2 linked regions of the Homo sapiens genome follow. The protein of the gene in region 2 purifies or fractionates together with the protein of the main gene of each other region. This does not show direct contact. Each region holds a gene or a part of one and is shown on either strand. Other genes may lie near its edges.

Region 1 (4,773 bases), on a different chromosome or scaffold from region 2:
CCTTGCTTCCTGATCAATTCTCCACAGAGGCCAGAGTAATCCTTTTAAAACAGAAGTCAGATCATATCACTCCCCTGCCAAAACCCTCCCACAGCCGTACACTATCTGATTGCATCTACTACTTTCTCCCTTGATGATGATGTCTCAGCCCTGTTTCTGGAAGATGTCACGTACACTCCTGCCTCAGGGCTTTGCAACTGCTGGTTGTTCTGCCTGGCATGTTCTTCCTTCTTGTTATGCAAACAATTCACCTTCTTCAAGTATTTGCTCAAATATCAGCCCTCAGTAAGGCCTTTCCAAGAACCCTATTTTAAACTGCAAACTCTTTCATCTATAGGCGCCCTCTCATCTCTGCATTATTTCTCTCCATAGAATTTATCACCTGCTGATACACTGCTTTTTACTTACTTTGGTTAATGTCTTATCTTCCTATCAAAATGTAAACTACTCAAAGGTAGTAATTTTTGTCTAGTTTGTTTTCTGCTGTATCCCCAGCAACTAAAATACTCAAATTTTTGATGAATGAATGAATATGCCAAATGATTGAATTGTAAAAAACTTTATGAACTGAGAGGTCCTAACTCCAAAAAGAACATTAAAGACGAAGTGTAAGAGCATTACAAATGATCGCCAATACACACAAAGGCAGAGTTGCAGTGAAAATCAACAGCCAGCTGAACTGTGGGTGAAATTCCCTTTATATAAACATGGCCTTATAATCAGATGACCTCAGATGGGTCTCTGGTGTGTACAAAGAAAGCAAAACCAATTTTCCCATGAGTGCCTCTGGACACTCATGTAAGAGTTACAGATGTTGACTACATTTAAACATTTATCATGCTTCCAAAAACATATTTGTAAGAGAAAAAAATATAAAAATAAAAATGTACAAAGTTCTTTATTAAAATAATAGCTTAAATAAATCCTCTGTCAACACCAGACAGAGTCAGTGACTGGATCTAGACTCTAGAGCTTAGAGCTTTTTACATAGTTACATGAAAACATTTGAATCCGTCTTCACAGACAGTGCCACGATGACAATCTGGTTAAAACCAATAAGCCATCTTCCAGATGCAGCTTAAGAGTTCAGGCGAGAAAAGGAACTGAGGAAAATGACTGTACATAATATGGTTCTCATTCTATTTGCCTTTTTTCGTCTTGGCTGTCTTCTCCTTTCTTTTTTTCACATGTTTAGGAATTTTGTTTTTTCTTTTCTCTCTCTGGGCTTCCTTGACCATCTTTTTTCTTTCCTGTAAAAAACAAACAAAAAAGCCAACTTTCATTCATTTGGAGTATGCATTTTTTGTTTTTGTTTTTTGTTTTTTGTTTTTTAGACAGGGTCTTGCTCTGTCGCCCAGGCTGGAGTCAGTGGCGTGACCATGGTTCACTTCAGCCTCCACCTCCTGGGCTCAAGCAATCCTCCCACCTCAGCCTCCTGGGTAGCTGGGACAACAGGTGTGCACCACCACACCTGGCTAGGTTTTTTTGGGGTATTTTTTGGTAGAGATGGGGCTTCGCCAGATTGCACAGGCTGGTCTCGACCTCCTGGGCTCAAGTGATCCACCCACCTTGATCTCCCAAAATGCTGAGATTACAGGCATGAGCCACTGCACCCACCTGGAGTATTATTATGATTATAACTAAATAAAATACACACATAGAAGAATAAAAGTGAGTGTAATGTAAAGAAAAGAAAAGAAAATGATTATGGGTTGGTGGAGGAACTTGGGGTGAAAACTGTCTTTCAGTTTTTTCTTTTTAGAGACAGGGACTCACTCTGTCACCCAGGCAGGAGGGCAGTGGCATGACCATTGTGCACTGCAGCCTCAAGCTCCTGGGCTCAAGCAATCCTCTTGCCTCAACCTCCCCAGTAGCTGAGACTACAGGCATGAGCCACCATAACCGGCCTTGAGCTTCCTCTTTTTTTTTTTTTTTTTGAGACGGAGTCTCTGTCGCCCAGGCTGGCATGCAGTGGCGTGATCTCGGCTCACTGCAAGCTCCGCCTCCTGGGTTCACGCCATTCTCCTGCCTCAGCCTCCCAAGGAGCTGGGACTACAGGCGCCTGCCACCACGCCCGGCTAATTTTTTGTATTTTTAGTAGAGATAGGGTTTCACCATGTTAGCCAGGATGGTCTCGATCTCCTGACCTCGTGATCCACCTGCCTTGGCCTCCCAAAGTGATGGGATTACAGGCGTGAGCCACCGCGCCCAGCTGAGCTTCCTTAATAGAAATGTGAAGACAGCCAAACAGAAATATCCCTAAGAATGTTATTAAATGTTTGCAAATACTTTTCTTTACAAGTTCCATATTCTAACAGAAATAGACATTGGAAAGAGACAAAATATGTGTTTCTAGTAGACATATGAGAAAATATGCTAGCAGCTGAGTATGTCCCTCAGAAGTCTTGGGACCCACATTGTATAAGGTTTAAAGGATTAGACTAAGATGGAATAATAATAGTCACATAGCACTCAGTCAGCAGTGTCTCTATGTCTATGGCTAGGGATTAAAGAAATACAAGAGTCCCTTCTTATCCATGGGGGATATGTTCCAAGACTCCCAGTGGATGCTTAAGACTGTGGATAGTGCCAAACCCTATATATACTATGCTTCTACCTATACATACGTACCTATGATGAGGTTTAATTTATAAATTAGGCACAGTAAGAGATAATAACTAATAACAGAATGGTAACAATATACTATAGTAAAAGTTATTTGAATGTGGTCTCTCTCTCCAAATATCCCACAGTATCATACTCATGTGACAGTAGCTTCTTCATTGGCAGATGCAGCCTCTCTGGTAATTTTTCTATTTTTTAGTCCAAACCTATTCCTGAATCTGTGTAACTATTCCTTACAGTAAATGGCCTGGTGGCACTCATTTCAGGGGAACCCTTGCTGAAACCTTTGAAACCTTCGTATAGGCTCAGTGCTTTCTGGTGCAACATGGTGCCATCAACTGGAAGATGTTTTTGTTTACGTCTTTCACCCACAAATTTCATGCCTTTTCCATCTTAACTAAGCAGTTATCACATGCTATGGTCCTAAGTTTTGCAGTTTGGGGTGAGACAGCAAAACCAGCACAAACATCTTTTTCCTTCTCCACAATGTCACGGATAAAAGATTCTCACCAGCAACTTCAGCATATGATTCTTTTCCTTTTATTTATTTTTTTGAGACAGAATCTCACTCTGTCACCCAGGCTGGCGTGCAGTGGCATGATCAGCTCACTAGAACCTCAAACTTCTGGACTCAAGGGATCCTCTTGCCTTAGCCTCCCAAGTATTTGGGACTACAGGTGCTCATCACCAATGTTTTAATAGAGACGGGGTATCACTCTATTGCCCAGACTGGTCTGGAGTGATCCGCCCTCCTTGGCCTCCCAAAGTGCTAGGATTACAGGCATGAGTTCCTTGTTAAGTCAAGAATGGTCACCTTTCCACTTAAAGGAAGCATTTTATGGCTTCTCTAAAGCATACCTGAAATTCCAACATCACTACTCCTGTAATTTACGGTCATTATTAAGCAAAGTAAGGGTTACTTGCACACAAGCACCACAACATCACAGCAGCTGAACTGATAGCCAAGAAGGCTACTAAGTGACTAACGGGTGGGGAGTGTCGACAGTGTGAAGACGCTGGACCACGTGATGATTCACATTCCAGGCAGGATGGAGGAGGACAGCATGAATTTCATCACACTACTTAGGACGGTGAGCAATTTAAAACTTATAAATTGTTTACTTCTGGAATTTTCCATTTAATATTTGCAAACCAAGGCTGACTGCAGGGAACTGAAACAGTAGAAACTGAAAGCATGGATGGGGGGACTATTATATGGTCTTTCAGATTCCAGAAACATCAAGCTGGGCTATAAATCCCCCTGAAATGGCTCTTCAGTATTTACCCTGGGTCAACTCTAACATCACTTGTACTTCATGTGAAATGTACTGAATTTAGTGCGTGCTCTCTCTAGGCAATGCCCAAGGTGCTCTGATGAGCAGCCCAATCTCAAGATAATGTTACCACCAAAAGTCAAGTTCACACTTAGGTATTAAAACTGTAATTAGAGGTACTTATCAATAATGTTTTCAGCCATCATAATCTAGCTAGATCCTTGAGCAAAGAGAAATAAGAGCGGCTGTGCTCCCACACTAAAGAAAAGGGGAAGGTATTTCATTGCTTACTTTTTTATCAATGTCAGGGTCCGTGGTGTGTTTCTTGGGGCGGGCATGGTCTCCCTGCTCTTCAGAGTCTGTGTCAGAGCACTCAGAGCTTCCAATATCTTCTGAATCAGAACAAGTCCTTTCCTCCACTTGATTTTCTAGGAGTGCAGGGACCTTGAAATTATTAAAGAACCATGTTATTCTAAACAACACACAAACCAAGTTATGTGTTGTTGTTAAATGTGTTAATGCCAGAATTCAGATTTTAGGCTCGCAAATATATGTTAAAAACTAACATCCTGTACTGAAACATCAAAACACCAGAATGAACATCAGGAGGGAAACATGAAAGTAGCCACTCCAAGTAAGGCTCCAGAACATACTCAAATGAAGGAACCAGGGCTTTACTGCGTGACCTAGATCAACAACAGAGCTGTTCTCCTTCTTTCAGCTAATCAGGAGCATTTAGTTGGGATTGGGAAAGAGGCAAAATATACATAGAGGTAGAAAATGAAGATTTATATGGATAACTTCACAGCTGTTTTCCTGTGAACCACATTTCTAGCAATAAACTAATCCAATTGGGAGGGAAAACAATATGTGA
Region 2 (7,594 bases):
GGGGAAGGATCTCAGTTCAAGGGTGACCCCTGGGCCAGGCACCCATGGCTGGCCATGCTTGAGGAATGTTGTTGGAATGATGTTAGATAAGTTGACTTGGTCAGTGTTAAAATTCCTCTATTGCAGATGAGGAAACTGAGGTTCAAAGAAGGGAAAAGACTTCTCCCTTGCAAAAGGGGTCAGGGATAAGATTTGAACCAAGTCTGTCAGCCACAGGCTCACAAAGCAAGACCCCTCTAAGCTCCAAACACTCACCAACGGTTACAGTTGTCCCAGTACGTTCCCAAGACTGGATAGATACGACCTCCATGCATACATCCTGTTGGAAGGGAAGAGAAGAGAAGTGGAACCAGAACCAGAGAGGATGGGCTAATTGGCCAGGTCCTTGGAGGTCAGGTACCTTGAACCTTTCCAAGATTCTCTCTCTTTCTCTCTCTCTGTCTCACACACACACACACATACCAGCTCTCACTGAAATTAAACTATAACTGAAGACATCACACACACACACACACACACACACCAGCTGTCACTAAAATTAAACTATAACTGAAGGCATCACACACACACACACACACATACCAGCTCTCACTGAAATTGAAGCCAAACTATAACTGAAGATATCACACACACACACACACACACCAGCTCTCACTGAGATTAAGCTATAACTGAAGACATCACACACACACACACCAGCTCTCACTGAAATTAAACTATAACTGAAGACATCACACACACACACACCAGCTCTCACTGAAATTAAACTATAACTGAAGACATCACACACACACACACACACCAGCTCTCACTGAGATTAAGCTATAACTGAAGACATCACACACACACACACACACACACACACCAGCTCTCACTGAAATTAAACTATAACTGAAGACATCACACACACACACACCAGCTCTCACTGAAATTAAGCTATACTGAAGACAACACACACACACACACACACCAGCTCTCACTGAAATTAAGCTATAACTGAAGACATCACACACACACACACACATACCAGCTCTCACTGAAATTAAACTATAACTGAAGACATCACACACACACACACACACACACACCAGCTGTCACTAAAATTAAACTATAACTGAAGGCATCACACACACACACACACACATACCAGCTCTCACTGAAATTGAAGCCAAACTATAACTGAAGATATCACACACACACACACACACACCAGCTCTCACTGAAATTAAGCTATAACTGAAGACATCACACACACACACACACACACACACACACACACCAGCTCTCACTGAAATTAAACTATAACTGAAGACAAATCCTGCAGGGTCACACACCAACTGCTGTTTGGGAAGTTCTTCAATGATTCCAACCTGGATTCCTCTTACTTTACTTGGATGCCAGCCACAACATTCCTGGGATCCTTTTCCATTTAAATAAGTTAGGGCTTGGAGATGGGGAGTGGGAGGAGCATGGGGAAGCCAAGGCCCAGAGAAGGTAAGCAACCGTCCTAAGATAACACAGCACTCTTGAGATGACAGCTCAGGTATGCAGTCTGCCGGCCCAAGCCCCATGGAACTGTGGGAAGGAACGCAAGTGATTCTCCTATTGGACAGGGGCAAGTGCATGGAAAAGGATGATGGTGAGGCTGAAAGCAGGAAAAGATTTGACCCATCTCCCAGGTATGAGCAGCCATCTCGGGGCACAGGATCCTAGAATCCTCAGCAAAGGCAGAAAAATGGCTAAGATGACCCTCACCAACCCATATGTGCCTTATCAGCCCAAGAGTGAGTCAGCAGGTGCGGCCAGCACCTTCCGTGTCTGGAAAAGAGACAGGATTGGGAGAAAATGTGGGAGGTTGCCCTTTCCCTGGGCCAAATTAGAATTCTAACCAAGGAGCTTCTTCAGTCTTGCTGGAGAGTAAAGTTCCCAGAGGGGCAGGGAAGAGTCCCAGATTCTACAGAGCTTCCCCTGGAAATGTCAGTGCATCCATCAGCTTTGCTCTTGAGCCTTGCTGAGTCTGAGGTGGACAAAGTGACCCACCCTCCTGGCCATCTTAGTGCCCACCTTGGATCGGGGGAAAAGGGGGTGGCACGCCGAGGCAGAAGTCCCAGAAGTCAGGGCAGCAGTCGGAGACCGTGCGGTTGCAGAAGAGGTCACAGTAACAGATGGCGCCCAGGTAGGGCAGGGCACAGTCGTCGGCACGGCCGCGGCAGCACAGGTCCTGCTCCTGGCAGTACCGGCCTCCCGCGTCCCGGATGCCCCGCAGGTGCAGACCCGGTGCTAGCTCCCGGCGCCCACGACCCTGCTGGGCACCCAGAGCCAAGTGGCCAGCCAGCGGCAGCAACAGCAGTAGCCCCAGTGGACATCGCCACATGGTGGCTCCTGGGCCCTGGGGGGCAGAGATGGTGGGCAGCAGAGACTCCCTGGAACACCAGGGATGAGTCTCCCAGTTTCCTGGAGCTGTGAGTTCAAGAGGGCCCAGCAGGGAGGGAGATCCCGATTCCTGAGTCCCCAGGCAGGACACGGGCAGAGGAGCCCCAGTGTGTGGGCCCTGGCTATAGGGGGATGGGGACTGGGCAGAAACGGAGCCCCTCCCTGACCTAGGCAGGGACCTTCAAGGACAAGGAAATGAGGGTGGTGGCATTCTTGGTGCTCCCACCCAACACTCATCCTGTGGACCCAAGGTCTTCTCTCCTGTCCTAGGTCTCTCTGCCCTCCAGCAGCCTCCATCCCTGACCTGGGTCCTTGACTTTGTGCTTTCCTGTCTCCCCCGGTCTTTTGGGTACACCTCTCTTCTGTTCCTGTGTCCCTCTGTCCCCCTCCACTGTCCCTCTCTCTGCCATCTGTCTTGGTTCCTCTACCTGCCCCCTCCCCCTGTTTCTTCTCTGTCTACACCTTCCGCCCTCTGAGCAGGGGAGCGTCCCTACCTGGTGAAGGTGTGGGCTGGGGCCCAGGCTGGCCCGCGCGCCTCCGCCTCCTGGCTCTGCGACCGCCGGACGCTCAAAGTCAAGAGAGGAGCGCGGGGCGGGGCGCTTTTTGTACCGCCCGCCCTCTGCACCGCCCCAGCAGTGGCGGAAGGGAGGGGCGCCTGGCTTGTACCTGGAGTAACTACCCCACAACTCATGGGCTTGCAGGGTGGAGAAACGACAAGCACACGATTGTCCTGGCTGGGTCTCCTGTGGCGGAAGCCGTTCCCTTAGGGGAACCCCAAGCAGGAAGGATTGCGGTTTCACACTGGGAAGGACTTCACAGTGGGCATCCCTGTGGAGCTGAGGGGCTCTGGTGGAGAAGGGGGGATATGGGCAGCCGAGCTCTGGGTTATGGACACAAGTTTGGGAAATGATGGGGAGGGCATGTGAGGCAAAATTCTGTAAGCCTCTCCTGACCCCTCGGTAATAAAAATAGCCATGCACACCCCTCTCCACTGTGCCCCCTAGGCTTGGGTGCCGCCCCCCTAGCCACCCCAGCTCCTAGGAATGATTGGAATTCCAGGAGTATGATCCTTAGGTGCCCTGGGCGGCTCATCCCTGGGAGGTGGGCAGGGTGTGGGGGTGGCCTCTGCACCCTTTGATCCCTTGTTGAGTCTGCCTTCCCTTGCCTGCTTGGGCCCCTAGACGAGCACTGCCCTCTCTAGCAAACCCAAGGGCATCCTGCTTGGCACCTGTCCCCCTCCAAGGGTCCAAAGGCAAGGGCCCTACCAGCTGGCACCCCCTGCAGAGGCCCTCCTTCCTGCCGCAGGCATAAACCTTTCTTTGCCCAGGCTGGCCTGGGACCCAAACAATGGGGCTTCTGTCCCGCCAGGTCTGCCGTCACCTTTTACCTCCCTATTGTGCAACGCCCTCTCTTCAACAGGTTGGGCCCAGGCCAGAGGTCTCTACCAGCAAAGAGGATAAAAGAGACTACACCTGGACAAACCCTCCCAGGCCCAGGCCTGAGCCTCACATGTGGCCCCGGGGAAGGCATCAGGGACTCCCTTTGCCCTCCCACTGACCTCCCTGCAAACCTCCCCCAAACCAAGGGGCATCCTCAGCTGGCCAGACCCTGGGGGAAGGGAGAGAGCCGAGGATCACCGGCACCTGTGGCTGGGTTACCCCTGCCATGGACCACTGGGTGGTGAGTCACCAAGGGGGTCCTGCCCTGGTGGTGGGGGTGGAGGGATAATATCCGGGGGCCCCAGCACTGGCACTAACACACCCAGGAGCTGCCCATCTGCTCCCTGCAGGGACCTGGGAGGACAAAGCCTAGGTGGGAAACTGAGGCTCAGAAGAATGCACTTGCCTGAGGTCGTGCAGCCAGAACACAGGCTCCCTGCCTGCCACCAGCCCACTCCTTTACCCCTAGTCACCCTTAGTCACCCACTACAGGTCTCAACGTGCTCCTGGTTGGGAAGTCTCTTTTCTTATCTAAACTCCATTCATCTTACTGCAGGACGGGCCCCTCGGTATTGGTAAATGTCATATCCTCAGGGTAAGAGATGAAAGCTGCTTTCTTTCAAAAGAGTTCGTGTCCAGAGTTCCTACTTTTATGGTACCTACTTTTTCATGGTTCTGGGGCTGGGGGCTTGTTTAGAGACATCTGGCCTCTCTTTTGCCCAAAATCACACCGCATAGGCTACCCTCGTGAGTCTGGGTGTGTTATCTCTGTGTGCATGTATGCATGTGTATATCTGAGTTGCGGTGTTTGTGGGGGTGTTTCTGCTTCTGCTTGAGTCTGTCAGTCCACATCTGATCGTCTGGGTTTTTTTTGCTTTTTGTTTTTTGTTTTTTTTTGAGACAAGGTCTCACTTTGTCACCCAGGCTGGAGTACAGTGGCGCGATCTCGACTCACTGAAGCCTTGACCTCCTGGGCTCAAGTAATCCTCCCACCTCAGCTTCCTGAGTAACTGGGACTACAGGTGCACACCGCCATGCCTGCCTGAATTTTTTTTGTATTTGTAGTAGAGATGGGGTTTCACCATGTTGCCCAGGCTGGTCTCCAACTCCTGAGCTCAAGCAATCCGCCTGCCTTGGCCTTCCGAAGTGTGTTTACCTGTCTATCTGCTATGTGCCTGTGTATCTGTGAGTCTGGATATTTTGGCTATCTGCCTGTCCTTGTCTGACTGATTGTCTGCTTGTCTATCCATTTACCTGTCCATCTGCTACATACCTGTGCATCTGTGTGTGTGTATCTGTCTGGATGTTGTCTCTGTGTCCATTATGGATCTGTCTGTCTGCCAGCGTGTGTTGTTTGCCTGCATTTGTGCACTTGTTGGCTTGTATGTCTGTGTGTGTGTCCTGCCTGTGCCTCCCTGTCTAAGAGGTGTCTGTGTATCTGTGTGGGAGTTGTGGCCATCTGCCTGTCCTTGTCTGCCTGCCTGTCTGTGCATAAGAGGCAGGGACTCAGAGCAGGGGATGGGAGCAGAGCCAGAGCCTCCCACCATCACTCAGCTTGGCACAGAGCCCGCCCCAGTGGAATTTTGTGACTCACTGGGTTCCTTGGCCGAGGAGGAAAAGGGCAGGGCCGGGGGTGCTGGACACCCCCACTTTCCTTTTCCATGACCCTTTGACCCTTTGCCTCCTAGTGACTCCTAGTGACTCATTGACTTATTATTATTTTTTTTGATGGAGTCTCGCTCTGTCGCCCAGGCTGGAGTGCAGTGGCGTGATCTCAGCTCACTGCAAGCTCTGCCTCCTGGGTTCAAGCCATTCTCCTGCCTCAGCCTCCTGAGTAGCTGGGACTACAGGCACCCACAACCAGGCCCAGCTAATTTTTTGTATTTTTTTTTTAGTAGAGATGAGGTTTCACCATGTTAGCCAGGATGGTCTCGATCTCCTGACCTTGTGATCCGCCCGCCTCAGCCTCCCAAAGTGCTGGGATTACAGGCATGAGCCACCATGCCTGGCCGACTCAATGACTTATTCTTGAGCAAAGTGGGGCCTTATCCAAGGGCCTGGGACAGAGCAGCAGAGGAGGAGACACCAGCGAGACTTCCCCCTCTGAGCCCTTCCGGCTTTTCAAGAGGCAGGTAGCCTAGGTCCCTGTGGTGGTTTTGTCCTCCCTTACTCCGGACCCCCGGCAGCGCAGCCCCTCTCTGGGCGTTGGTACCAACCTGTACCCAGATGCTCCCTGGAGGCCCTCTGGTATTCTCTTACTTTTACAGAGGGAGGTGAAGCCAGAAAGGGACAGTGACAAGCCTAAGAACACACGGCAGAGCAGAGGGCTCTCCTCTCTATGGAGTCCCAGAGCTCCCCACACCCCACAAACTTCACAACTGCTCTAAATGCTCGGAATCAGCCATTCTCCTCTGTGAGCTGAGCAGGGCTTTCTGGGAAGACAAAGACCTGTTGTCTGCTCACCTCAGGTCCCTAGCCGAGGACCTGATACTTGAGGCCTGGGAGTTCAGATGCTCAGGGCCCAAACAGCACCCCATCCAAGGCTGGGGCTCCTTGTGGTTCCCTGTGGTCAGTGGGACATGTCCAGAGCTCAGGTCAGTGCTCCCTGGGACTGCATCTGAGACCCTGTCCAGGCCTAATACTGTAGCCGGTTGGGCCATGTTGTGATATGTTGGGGCTTCCCAGGGCTCATGGACTGTTTTGTAGAAAGTCCCACATCAAGGGCTGCATGACAGTCAGAGTGTGGTGCTGTCATAGCACGCTGGAGCTTGCAGCAGACAAAATTCCAGGCCATGTGGAAGTGTGTTGCGCCACGCAATGGCATGCTTTACTATTTGATTTTCTCATTCATTCAACAAATACTTGTTAAGCATTTACGATGTGCCAGGTTCTGTGCTAGGTGCTGAGTGTACATTGTTGAACCAAACAGATGGAGTTCCTGCTATTGTGGAGTTTGCAGTCTAATGGGAAGAGAGGCCAGGCATGGCGGCTCATGCCTGTAATCCCAGCAGTTTGGGAGCCTAAGGCAGGTGGATTGCTTCAGCTCAGGGGTTTGAGATCAGCCTGGGCAACATGGTGTAACCCTGTCTCTACCAAAAATTAAAAAAATTGCCTGGGTATGGTGGCATGTACCTATGGCCCCAGCTACTCAGGAGGCTGAGGTGGGAGGATTGCTTGAGCCCAGGAGGCAGAGGTGGCAGTGAGCTGAGATTGTGCCACTGCACTCCAGCCTGGGTGACAAAGTGAGATTCCATCTCAAATAATGATGATGATAATAATAATAATAATAACAACGGGAAGATAGACAAATACATAAGCAAACCATCCCCCCGCCCCCCCACCCACAGATCAAGAAGTCATTCCAAAATGTGAAGCGTTCTGAAGATATGCACATAGCGTAAGAACCTGGTGTAATGTGCTGGTCAAGGCGGTCTCAGAGAGGAGATGACGTTTGAGCTGACACCTGAGGGATGAGAAGAAAGCAGCCATTCCCAGGGCCCAGGGGAGGCATCCCAGGAAGCCGGATCAGCATGAGCAAAAGCCCTGAGGCCTGGCACAAGTTGGTCTGCTTGAGAAGCAGGAGAGAGCCCTGAGCATCCGGAGTGCAGCAAGCGAGGTGCACAGAGGAGCAGGAAGGGGCTGGGAGAAGGCTGGGGCCGGATCATGCAGGACAGGCTGGAGGAAGGGGCTTGAATTGTCTTCTGACCACTGAGGGGATATAA

Evidence for each region.
Region 1: the proteins of TINAGL1 (region 2) and RIOK1 purify together in Homo sapiens (affinity purification with mass spectrometry; 3 studies listed by BioGRID and IntAct, with this or other methods). This does not show direct contact.

The regions. Positions count from the first base shown.
Region 1 is NC_000006.12:7,413,808-7,418,580, reverse strand, and holds the end of RIOK1 (serine/threonine-protein kinase RIO1), read right to left. Parts: intron 4,344-4,773; coding exon 4,191-4,343; intron 1,251-4,190; coding exon 1,140-1,250; 3' UTR 544-1,139; downstream 1-543. UniProt on the Homo sapiens protein: Involved in the final steps of cytoplasmic maturation of the 40S ribosomal subunit. Involved in processing of 18S-E pre-rRNA to the mature 18S rRNA. Required for the recycling of NOB1 and PNO1 from the late 40S precursor.
Region 2 is NC_000001.11:31,571,929-31,579,522, reverse strand, and holds the start of TINAGL1 (tubulointerstitial nephritis antigen-like isoform 1 precursor), read right to left. Parts: upstream 3,009-7,594; 5' UTR 2,928-3,008; intron 2,390-2,927; 5' UTR 2,375-2,389; coding exon 2,065-2,374; intron 1,680-2,064; exon of another isoform or gene 1,626-1,679; intron 1,379-1,625; exon of another isoform or gene 1,335-1,378; intron 320-1,334; coding exon 256-319; intron 1-255. UniProt on the Homo sapiens protein: May be implicated in the adrenocortical zonation and in mechanisms for repressing the CYP11B1 gene expression in adrenocortical cells. This is a non catalytic peptidase C1 family protein.